Homo sapiens: one gene and its partners. The protein of the gene in region 3 purifies or fractionates together with the protein of the main gene of each other region. This does not show direct contact. Each region holds a gene or a part of one and is shown on either strand. Other genes may lie near its edges. The genes, in order: PRSS53, NLN and LMLN.

Region 1 (3,750 bases), on a different chromosome or scaffold from region 3:
TGTAGTGGTTATAGGCCCTGGGCAACTGCAGGGCAGCCACCCCCACCTCTTCGGCCCCAGGGCTGAGTCCCTCACGCTGCAGAGAACCCAGGACCACTGACCAGGAATTCAGTTCTGTTGCTGCTGCCCTGGAAGGGGAAGGACAAGGTCCAGGCTGCTGAGTGCAAGGGTAGACAGTGACACCATGGGAGACCCCACAGGTAGGTGGAAGATAGCAGAGAGCACTCCACGGCTTTTTCTTTTTGAGGTAGGGTCTCGTCCTGTCGCCCAGGCTGCAGTGCAGTGGCATGACCATGACTCACTACAAGCCTTGACCTCCCAGGCTCAAGCGATCCTCCCACCTCAGCCTCGTGAGTAGCTGGGACTACAGGCGTGCACCACCATGCCTGGCTAATTTTACAGTTTTTGTAGAGACATGGTCTTGCTATGTTGCACAGGCTAGTCTTGAACTCTTGGGCTCAAGCGATCCTCCCTCCGTGGCCTCCCAAAGGGCTGGGATTACAAGCGTGAGCTACTGTGCCCGGCCTCAGTCTGTGACTTTAAGCGAGGTCATTCCCTTGCAACCTGAGTTTTCTGATTTGTAAATCTTCTACCATGAAAGGTGGTTGTTACAATTAACTTGACAATATGTACCCAGTACATGGCAGATTCTCAGTAAATGGTTCTTTATTATTACTCTAGAGGCAGGGACTAGCCTTGTGGGGCTTGAGACAAATTGTCCACTCCCCAGAGCCGGAGACCCTGCCTGACCCCAGCCATGACTTACTTTTCAAAGCAGTGGGCAGCAGTGAGGACCCAGGTGTCTGCCACCAGGGAGCCGCTGCAGATGTGGGCTCCTTGCCTCCTCACACTGGCCTGCCAGGGCCACTCGCCAGGGACTGTGTTGCCCTCCTGAGGCTTGGGGGGGCCGGGGCCACGCTGTCCACAGGCTGTGGAAAGGAGTTAGTCACACTGACAGCAGATACCTGTCCTGACCTCACCCCAGTCCCAACCCAGACCCAAGTAAGACCTAGGCCCCGTGTCCCCAGACCTTACCACGCTGAGCGGCTTGAAGACCTGGGAAGAGAGAGACACAGGTAAGATGCAGGGACTCCAGGCCTGCCTAGCTTTGGGGAGGAGAGGGGATGGGCTGGGGGGCGGGCCCAGGGTCCTTGCCTGTGACTCTGATTACCTTACCAGCCCCTCCCAGAATGAAAATATTTATATGAGGCCGAGACAGCTTTTATTGGAACCTATTCAGTGTGCACACTCAGTAATTAATTCTCCTTCAGCTGTGCTCAGCACTCTGGGGCTTGGGGTTCAGCTTGGGAGTAGGCCAGCCCTCCTCCAGGCTTCAGAACCCCCAACTCCTGCCCCCGCCACTGAGTCAGCCAGGCGGCCTGTGTGTGTAGAGAGCATTAGCTTAATTGTCCTCTTAGCAGCAGAGGCCTAAGAGGAAGGATTAGAGGCCTGCATCATTTCCAAGTGGGGAGGGCCCCAAGAAATGGAGACTTACCTCACCCTGGTCTAGAGACTCAGTCTTCCCCACCTTCCCAGAAACTGTCTGAGAGCCCGCCAGAGAGAGGGCCCCTGCCCACCGCCCCTCACAGGCACACAGGCACCCCATGAGACAGCTGAGCCAGGCTGCCCAGAGGATGGATGAAAAGAAAGGGAAACTGAGGCCAGAGGAGCCCAGAGTTTGCCTGACGTCATTGTGGAAGTCGAGGGGGAGGCAGGCACAGGACACACGCAGGCAGCACCTCACACACACACAAGACCACAGGCCCCGCCAACGCAAACTGCAGCTGGCCCGAGAAAATCTCATCCATGTTGACACAGGTGGCCACATATACCACCCCACAGAGTCCTACGGAGTTACATCCCCACTGGTGGACTGTCGCCCACAGGCGGTCCCCCCACCAAGAAGCAGGGACTGCTGGGGCAGAGATGGCCCCTGAGCCCCCACCAGGCCACACCCATACCCCAGCACATGGCGGCTTACCCTCCATGAGGACTGTGGCACCCGCGATGAGCAGCACTGGGCCCCAGCACCACTTCATGCTGCCCCGGGCCACTCTGCCACCTGTGCTCCACTCTGAGAGAGGCCACCTGGGTCTCCCTGGCTCCACCTCTGCTCCACCTCCAGTTGGCTAGGATTCAGCTGTCTGCTTGCCCTAGCCAGCAGTTCCTAGCTCTGGGGCTGTGGCTGTGTGACCCTAGGCTTGTCACCACCCCTCTCTGGGCCTTAGCCGTGGAGCCAAATTGTCTGGGTTTAAATCTGTTTCCTTACTACTTGAGTGGCCTGGGAGAGCTAACCTGCCTGTGCCTTGTCTGAGAAACAGTTGTTGAATGGAAAACGTCTCAATGACAGCCTGGCACAGGGCAAGCTCACTCCCAGCATGAAAGTGCCATCCTGGAACCATGGAGGGCACGTGGGCAGCTCCTCCCAGTCCCCACTTTTCATTTCCACTCCCCCACTTCTCTTCCAGCCAGGGCTAGGTGGGTTTCACATGCCTTCTCCCAGGTCTGCTCAGAGACAGTGTGTGCCAGGCTGAGTGGTGAGGAGCCAGCACCCACTGCTGCTTGCTCGCTGTGAGCCTTTGGCAAATCCCAGTATCTCCCTGGGCCTGCTGGCTTCCTGGGAAACAGGGTGACAGCGGTGCCCACCTTCCTCATAGGCGCAGAGGACTCGGTCAGGCGGGAAGAACACTTTGGCGCGTGCCTCCTCTTCCTCTTCCCACTCCTAACTCAGGCTGGCCCAGACCATTCAAGAACCCTGACCCCAAGACAGAGGCAGCTGTGGGTAAGGTTTAGCATATATTATAGATGCTGGCCGGGCATGGTGGCTCACGCCTGTAATCCCAGCACTTTGGGAGGCCAAAGCAGGCAGATCACCTGAGGTCGGGAGTGCGAGACCAGCCTGACCAACATAGAGAAACACTGTCTCTACTAAAAATACAAAATTAGCCAGGCCTGGTGGCGCATGCCTGTAATCCCAGCTACTCGGGAGGCTGAGGCAGGAGAATCACTTGAACCTGGGAGGTGGAGGTTGTGGTGAGCCGAAATTGTGCCATTGCACTCCAGCCTGGACAACAAGAGCGAAAGTCCGTCTCAAAAACAAACCAACAAAAAAAAAAGCATATAGATGCTGGAGCCAGATGGACCAGGTGGATTCAAATCCTGAGAGCCTCCTGCAGTAGCTGTGTGATCTCAGGCATACTAATTAGCCACTCTGTCCCTATCATCAAGATAGGGATAATAATAGTACCCACCTCATAAATCACTGTAAAGATTAAACGAGTTTAACACGTTAACACAAGTTTTTTTTTGTTTTTTGTTTTTTTTTGGAGACGGTCTTGCTCTGTTGCTCAGGCTGGAGTGCAGTGATCATGGCTCACTGCAGCCTCAACCTTCTGGGCTCAAGCAGTCTTCCCGCCAGCTTCCCGATTAGTTGGGACTATAGGTACATACACCACCATGCCTGGCTAATTTTTTTTTTTTTTTTTTTTTGTAGAGACAGGGGTCTCACTATTTTGCCCAGGCTGGTCTGGAACTCCTGGCCTCAAGTGATCCTCCTGCCTTGGCCTCCCAAAGTACAGGGATTACAGGTGTGAGCCACTGCACCCTGCCAACACAAGTTCTTAAACAGTGCTTGGCATGTAGGTAAGTGGTCAGGGCATAATAGGCAAAACAAAAACCTTCACAACCTGGCCCTGACCCTCCAAGGCTACCAATACTGGCTTGGAATGGTCGATAAGGCAACTGGAGGGG
Region 2 (3,650 bases), on a different chromosome or scaffold from region 3:
TCAAAGCTTAAGGCTTGTTTTTAGCTTAGACTGATTGTATTTTTCAGTTCTGGTTTTCTGATGATTGTTCCAACTTTGTCTACAATTCAAAGGAATGAAATTACTACTGTAATATAGAGTATTTGGGGGTTGTTTTTCACACTGTTCAGCTGCTGTGTTTTATTTTCACTTGACTATGAGGTTATTCTAACCCCTCATTCAGAGGAACAGTTGAGTCTGATTCTGCCTTAAGTTTTCGTGACTCTTAATAATTATTCATTGCATATGTACTTTCATTGAGTTCTTTAAAAAAATTCTCTGTGTTTGCTTTCTAGACTGATTTTGCACGATTTAGCGGAACAAATGTGGAAACTGACTTTGTAGAGGTGCCATCGCAAATGCTTGAAAATTGGGTGTGGGACGTCGATTCCCTCCGAAGATTGTCAAAACATTATAAAGATGGAAGCCCTATTGCAGACGATCTGCTTGAAAAACTTGTTGCTTCTAGGCTGGTCAACACAGGTATGACTTCTAATTTTAAAAAGGAAAATAAATTAGAATCTCTTAATGTAGAATTGCTGTCACCTTCTTCTGTAGAACTTATTTTCATTTTAAGTGGTATCCCAACCGTGCTAGCATGAGGAGTGAAGAACATTAAATATATTGGAATAGGAAACCCCGGAATTTTGTCTGAGGCAAAAAACCACATCTCCTTTTAAATCTTAAGTAGAATGAGATGTCCTGCTCCCATTTTGTGAGTACTACTGGAATCTGTTTTTGGAATCTACAATCTTGTGATAATAAAACACACAGTTCTGTCTTCTTCAAAACATGCCCAAACATTCTTATGTTATTAGGTCTTCTGACCCTGCGCCAGATTGTTTTGAGCAAAGTTGATCAGTCTCTTCATACCAACACATCGCTGGATGCTGCAAGTGAATATGCCAAATACTGCTCAGAAATATTAGGAGTTGCAGCTACTCCAGGTATGTAACTACTATGAATTGAGTTCATTTCTCTGTGAAGCACAGGGCGTTCTCCTAACACTGCAGGGGAGATGGAGTTTGTCAGACAGATTACCTAATTGTTTCTGATTTCTGTAATCAGGCCATGACTTTCAGATAAGCATACTATGTCCTTATGAGTTATCCCGTCCAAATGCGCTTGAAGGAAAGGTGGCTCCAGATCTGCAGCATTTTAGTGTAATCAGGCATGAGCAGTTGGCCTCCGCCCCAGAGCTGGGAGAGCCATTCGTGTTGGCAGCACACTCTCAGCTCCTCCCTCCCTGTATGCATCATGACTTCCCTGTGATTTTCAGGAAGAAATTGGCAGAAGGGGAACTTTTTAAGTTTTTTTTCCTTTACATATAGTATTTTGTTTATTTTTTCCATCCCCTCAAGCATTTATCCTTTGTGTTACATACAGTCCACTTGCACTCTTTTAGTTATTTTTAAATGTACAATTAAATTATTATTGACTATAGTCATCCTGTTATGCTATCAAGAAGGAGCATTTTCAGGCCTGGCATGGTGGCTCACACCTGTAATCCCAGCACTTTGGGAGGCTGAGGCAGGAAGATCACTTGAGCTCGGGAGTTCGAGACCAGCCTAGGCAACATGGCAAAACCCGTCTCTACCAAAATACAAAAATTAGCCAGGTGTGGTGGTGTATACCTACAGTCCTAGCTACCCAGGGGGCTGAGTTGAGAGGATCACCTGAGCCTGGGGAGGTTAAGCCTGCAGCGAGCCATGATTGCACCACTGCACTCCAGCCTGGGTGACACAGTGAGACCCTGTCTCAAAAAAAATAAAGGGTATTTGGGGGGAGAAGCATGAACTTCACCTTGTTTCTGATTCTGAGATCAGTTAAAGCATTTGACTAGCAGTTTGTAATCTGAGATTTATGGGACTCATGCATGGGCGTGTTTATATTTGTATGTGTATGTTTTAAGCCAATATATAGTTGTGCTTTTATATGTAGTTGGTAAGGTGGATTTTTTTTCACCAAGGAAATTGTTATTAAAATGAGTCAGCCACATTTATAGAGAGAATAAAGATAAGAATGGTCCGTTGAGTCATTCTAGGCTCCCCACATAGTAAGCCATAGTGCACCTTTGTGTCACAAGCCTTTGTGTCGCAATTACATTTTTAAATGTACAATTAAATTATTATTGACTATAGCCATCCTGTTATGCTATCAAGAAGGGACATTTTTAGGCCTGGCATGGTGGCTCACGCCTGTAATCCAGCATTTTGGGAGGCTGAGGCGGGAAGATCACTTGAGCTCAGGATTTTTGACAAAATCCTATATAAAGTAGCCCTACAGGTAGATTGAATTGGTGAAAAGTTCTTTTTCAGGCAAGGCACGGTGACTCACGCCTGTAATCCCAACACTTTGGGAGACCGAGGCAGGCAGATAGATCACTTGAGGTCAGAAGTTTGAGACCAGCCTGACCAAAGTGGTGAAACCCTGTATCTACTAAAAAATATGAAAATTAGCCGGCGTGGTGGCATGCACCTGTAATCCGAGCTACTCAGGAGGCTGAGGCAGGAGAATCCCTTGAACCTGGGATGCTGAGGTTGCATTGAGCCGAGATCTCACCACTGTACTCCAGCTTGGGCAACAGAGTGAAACTCTGTCTCAAAAAAAAGTTCTTTTTCAGTAATTATCAACCTAAAATAAGTGCAATTCTGAGACATTTTAGATATAAAGAGGTGTGGCAAAGAGTAGGGTTAATATTATTTTTCAAAACACATACATGTTTAAGAGATAAGAAAGGACTGATTTCAGTTCTAAAACACTGAGCTATCTGGTGGGTGTGGACAAAGCCGCTGAAACTATCCTTAGGCATTCCAGAGCTTGGGGCCGAAACCAGCTCTGAGGTTGAGCCATTGATAGATGTTTATAAACATCTTGGCCAAGAGGACACATCAGCCCAAGGAGTACTAGAGGTGAGATCATGTCATTCATTCTCTCCTCCCACAGCTGGCCTCCTCAGAGGGAAACCTTAGCTAGCTGTTAACCTGATCATTAACGTTTGCTATCACATTGATTGAAATGTATCTTTTTTTAAAGGCACAAATATGCCAGCTACCTTTGGACATTTGGCAGGGGGATACGATGGCCAATATTATGGATATCTTTGGAGTGAAGTATTTTCCATGGATATGTTTTACAGCTGTTTTAAAAAAGAAGGGATAATGAATCCAGAGGTATAGTATTATTTTTCTCCTTTTATTAATTTTGTAGTTGCTCCCTCCCCTTTAACTCCTAGTGTAAAATATTGGTCACATCTAGATTTTACTGTAAGAGGCTTGGTAACAGCTTTTACCTCTGAGGCCCTGCATCTTTCAAATCATCATACATCATTAAGTTGCAGTATACAAGTGATTAATTCTATAGTTTAAAAAAAACTAGTATATTTTCTTGCTTATTAACATTCTGATATATTACATAATTAAAAATTCAAAGCTTTGTTTATGGATTTGAGAATCTGTAGCTGCTAGTTTTGACATGTACCATACAACATTTTAGTTTTATAGGAGGTTGGGAAAGAAAGGTAAACTCCTTCCTGATGTAAATGGTTTCCCTGTGTTTTGATATTCTCTACACACTTTGTGCACTTTCTGTGGGAGACGCCCTTTTTCTGTGGCTGGCATGCCCCACCCACT
Region 3 (3,650 bases):
CTCACTCATATAATTCCAGCAATGGACAACCACATTTTTATTTTTATACTATTTCTGCAGATGTATACAAGAAAACAGAATTCTATATTTTGTAGAAAACTACGTTTGATCTATTAATATAACATAGTAACAGTCACAGATTTTCACAATACGTATTGCCTGCTCTGCTATGATGGCCTGACACCCTACTTCCAGTATTTTACTCATTCCATTCCAACCTATCTCCAGGTAACAGATTATTTTATGGCCCTTAAAAAACCATCAGAGGCCAGACACGGTGGCTCACGCCTGTAATCCCAGCACTTTGGGACTTTGGGAGGCCGAGGCAGGCAGATCACAAGGTCAGGAGACTGAGACCATCCTGGCTAACATGGTGAAACCCCATCTCTACTAAAAATACAAAAAAATTAGCCGGGCATGGTGGCAGGCGCCTGTAGTCCCAGCTACTTGGGAGGGTGAGGCAGGAGAATTGCTAGAACCCAGGAGGTGGAGCTTGCAGTGAGCCGAGATTTTGTCACTGCACTCCAGCCTGGGCAACAGAGCAAGACTCCGTCTCAAAAAAAAAAAAAAATCAGAAATGTCTGAGCACAGCAAATGGATATGGTACATTTTAGCAATCCATTACATGACTAACCTCCCCACAGATAACACATTACAAAGTCCGGACAAAATATACTGTCTGACAGTATTTTGGGGAGGGAGAAAGACAGAATCTGGAAGAATCTACTCTTGGAATACAGGAATTGTATCTCTGAGATTTGCAAGTCTAACTTTGGCTTGAGAGCACTACCTAATCTGTGTCTCTTGGAGTGGCAGGAAGTCAGAGCCTCACTGGCTTGAGGAGCTACAGCAAAATGTTCAGAACTTGTATCACCAGAAAATTAGAAGTTAGAGAGGAAATCTTGCAAGAGAAGAAGCCACAGAAGGTACCCCAAAATCTGCATATGAAACCCAGTCAAATATTTGACTGACCACTAAATTCCTTGGCTGACAACGAAATTACATATGTATGCGATAAAACCCAGCAAAGAATAAATGTTGCCAACAACAGGAGATAAGAGTTTGGAATTTTGAATACAGTTAAGTTAAACGCCAGCTACAAAAAAAAAAAAATTATTCAGAGAAATACAACAGAATCCAGACTTTACAATATATTATCTATGGTGTCCATTATTTAATAAAAAATCAGCAGCAATGAGAACAAAATGGGAAAATGAGATCCACAATGGGGGAAAAAGCAGGGAATAGAAACAGACCCTAAGAGGACCTGAATTTAAACAACTAGTTTAATGCAGCTGAAATGTGTTCAGGAACTTAAAAGAAAACATACACATAATGAGTAAGCAGATAGTGAACCTCAGAAGAGACACTATGAAAAGAACCAAAGAAAAAAGAGCCAAATGGAAATTCTAGAGCTTAAAAGTATAACAATTAAAATGAAAAATTCATTGGGGCCGGACACGGTGGCTCATGCCTGTAATCCCAGCACTTTGGGAGGCTGAGGTGGGTGGATCACTTGAGGTCAGGAGTTCCAGACCAGCCTGGCCAACATGGTGAGACCCTGTCTCCACTAAAAATACAAAAATTAGCCAGGCGTGGTGGTGCACACCTGTAATCCCAGCACTCCAGAGGCTGAGGCAGGAGAACTGCTTGAACTCGGGAGACGGTGGTTGCAGTGAGCCAAGACTGCACCATCACCCTACAGCCTGGGTGACAGAGCAAGACAGTCTCAAAAAAAAAAATTCACTAGAAAGAATTAAAAGAAGATTGGAGATGGCAGAAGCATCAGTGAACTTGAAGATAGATCTAGACATTATCCAATCCGAAGAAGAGAAATGAAAAAGACTAAAAAAAAAAAAAAAAAAAAAAAAGAACAGAGACTCAGAGAATGGGTACCAAGCAGTCTAGCAGATAGGTAATTAGAGTCCTATAAGGACAGGAGAAAATATGAGACAGAATATATATTTGAAAGAAATAACAGCTAAAAAATTTCAAATTTGGTGAAAGACATCAACTTACAGATCCAAGAAGTTCACTAAACCTCAAGCAGGATAAAAAACAAACAAGGCTGGGCGTGGTGGTTCATGCCTGTAATCCCAGCTCCTCAGGAAGCTGAGGCATGAGAATCACTTGAACCCGGGAGGCGGAGGTTTCAGTGAGCCAAGATCGTGCCACTGCACTCCAGCCTGGGCAACAGAGTGAGACTTTGTCCCCAAAAACAAACAAACAACAACCAGGTACATCATAGGCAAACTTGTGACATCTAAAAATAAAGATAAAATATTGAAAGCAATGAGAGAAAAACAACACATTTTATATGGTTTGGCTCTGCATCCCCAGCCAAATTGCATCTTAAATTGTAATCCCACATGTCAAGGGAAGGAGGTGACTGGATCATGGGGGTGTTTCCCCATGCTGTTCTCATGATAGTGAGTTCTCACAAGATCTGATGGTTTTATAAGCAAGCCTCTGGCATTTCCCCTGCTTGTACTTCTCTCTCCTGCCACCATGTAAAGAAGGTCCTTGCTTCTCCTTCATCTTCCACCATGATTGTAAGTTTCCTGAGGCCTCCCCAGCCATGTGGAACTGTAAACCACTTTCCTTTATAAATTACCCAGTCTCAGGTAGTATCTTTATAGCAGTGTGAGAACTAATACAACATTATACATAGGAAGGGAAGAGAAGTACGAATGGCATTGACTTTCTGTGAAGAACAATAAAGAACAGAAGACAATGAAATAAACAGGAAAGGGCTAAAATAAAGAAATTCAACACAGAAGTCTATATCCAATGAAAGTACCCTTCAAAAATGAAGAGGAAATAAAGACATTTCACATACATCTGAGAAAACTGATCACCAGCAGACCTACACTACAGGAAATGCTAAAAGAAGTTATTCGTGGGAATGGAAATAACACAAAAGGGTAACCTGTTTCTGTAGGAAGAAATAAAAGCTATTGGAAATGGTAAATACGTGAATAGATATGAAAGACTATTGTGCAGAAGAGTCAACACAGCAGGTCAGAGATTGCTGCTCTCTGTAGGAAGTCCTGCTTGCAAGGTTGACCTTTTGCTGGCATCTAGAAGTGTAATTTAAAACTTCACTAGGTTATAAGGATGGCTCATTGTGTCTAAACTATTTGCAGAAACAATATGGTTTATGTTGAACATTTGCTTGCTTCTGGAGTCTGAAATTTCAGTGGCTGAAATTTTGTCTACGTGACCAGCCTCCAATAAAAACCCTGGACTCTAAGAATCAGGTAATCTTCCCTGGTAGACCACACTTTGTGCACGCTGTCACAACTCACTGCTGAAGGAATTAAGCAGGTCCTAAGTGACTCTACTAGGAGAGGACTCTTGGAAGTTTTTGCCTAATTTCCTCTAGTCTTTGTCCCATGATCCTTTTCCCTTTGCTGATTTTACTTTGTATGCCTTCACTGTAATAAATCTCAGCTGTGAGTATGACGACAAGCTGAATCTAGCGAGGCCACCTAGCAATCACCAAACCTGGAGTGGTCTTGGGAATCCTCAACACAATTATACACACTTCTTTTCTTCTGTTAATTTCTTTGGAGACAAATAAATATTTAAAGCAAAAATTGTAAAATTTTTAATTGTGAAGTTTATTTTTTTTATTTATTTTATTTATT

The links.
Region 1: the proteins of LMLN (region 3) and PRSS53 purify together in Homo sapiens (affinity purification with mass spectrometry; one large-scale study listed by BioGRID and IntAct). This does not show direct contact.
Region 2: the proteins of LMLN (region 3) and NLN purify together in Homo sapiens (affinity purification with mass spectrometry; one large-scale study listed by BioGRID and IntAct). This does not show direct contact.

What each region holds. Positions count from the first base shown.
Region 1 is NC_000016.10:31,086,771-31,090,520, forward strand, and holds the start of PRSS53 (serine protease 53 precursor), read right to left. Parts: upstream 2,174-3,750; 5' UTR 2,040-2,173; coding exon 1,982-2,039; intron 1,057-1,981; coding exon 1,036-1,056; intron 930-1,035; coding exon 767-929; intron 129-766; coding exon 1-128. UniProt on the Homo sapiens protein: In vitro can degrade the fibrinogen alpha chain of as well as pro-urokinase-type plasminogen activator.
Region 2 is NC_000005.10:65,809,201-65,812,850, forward strand, and holds part of NLN (neurolysin, mitochondrial), read left to right. Parts: intron 1-314; coding exon 315-501; intron 502-836; coding exon 837-965; intron 966-3,054; coding exon 3,055-3,191; intron 3,192-3,650. UniProt on the Homo sapiens protein: Hydrolyzes oligopeptides such as neurotensin, bradykinin and dynorphin A. Acts as a regulator of cannabinoid signaling pathway by mediating degradation of hemopressin, an antagonist peptide of the cannabinoid receptor CNR1.
Region 3 is NC_000003.12:197,970,166-197,973,815, reverse strand, and holds part of LMLN (leishmanolysin-like peptidase isoform 1 precursor), read right to left. Parts: intron 1-3,650. UniProt on the Homo sapiens protein: Metalloprotease.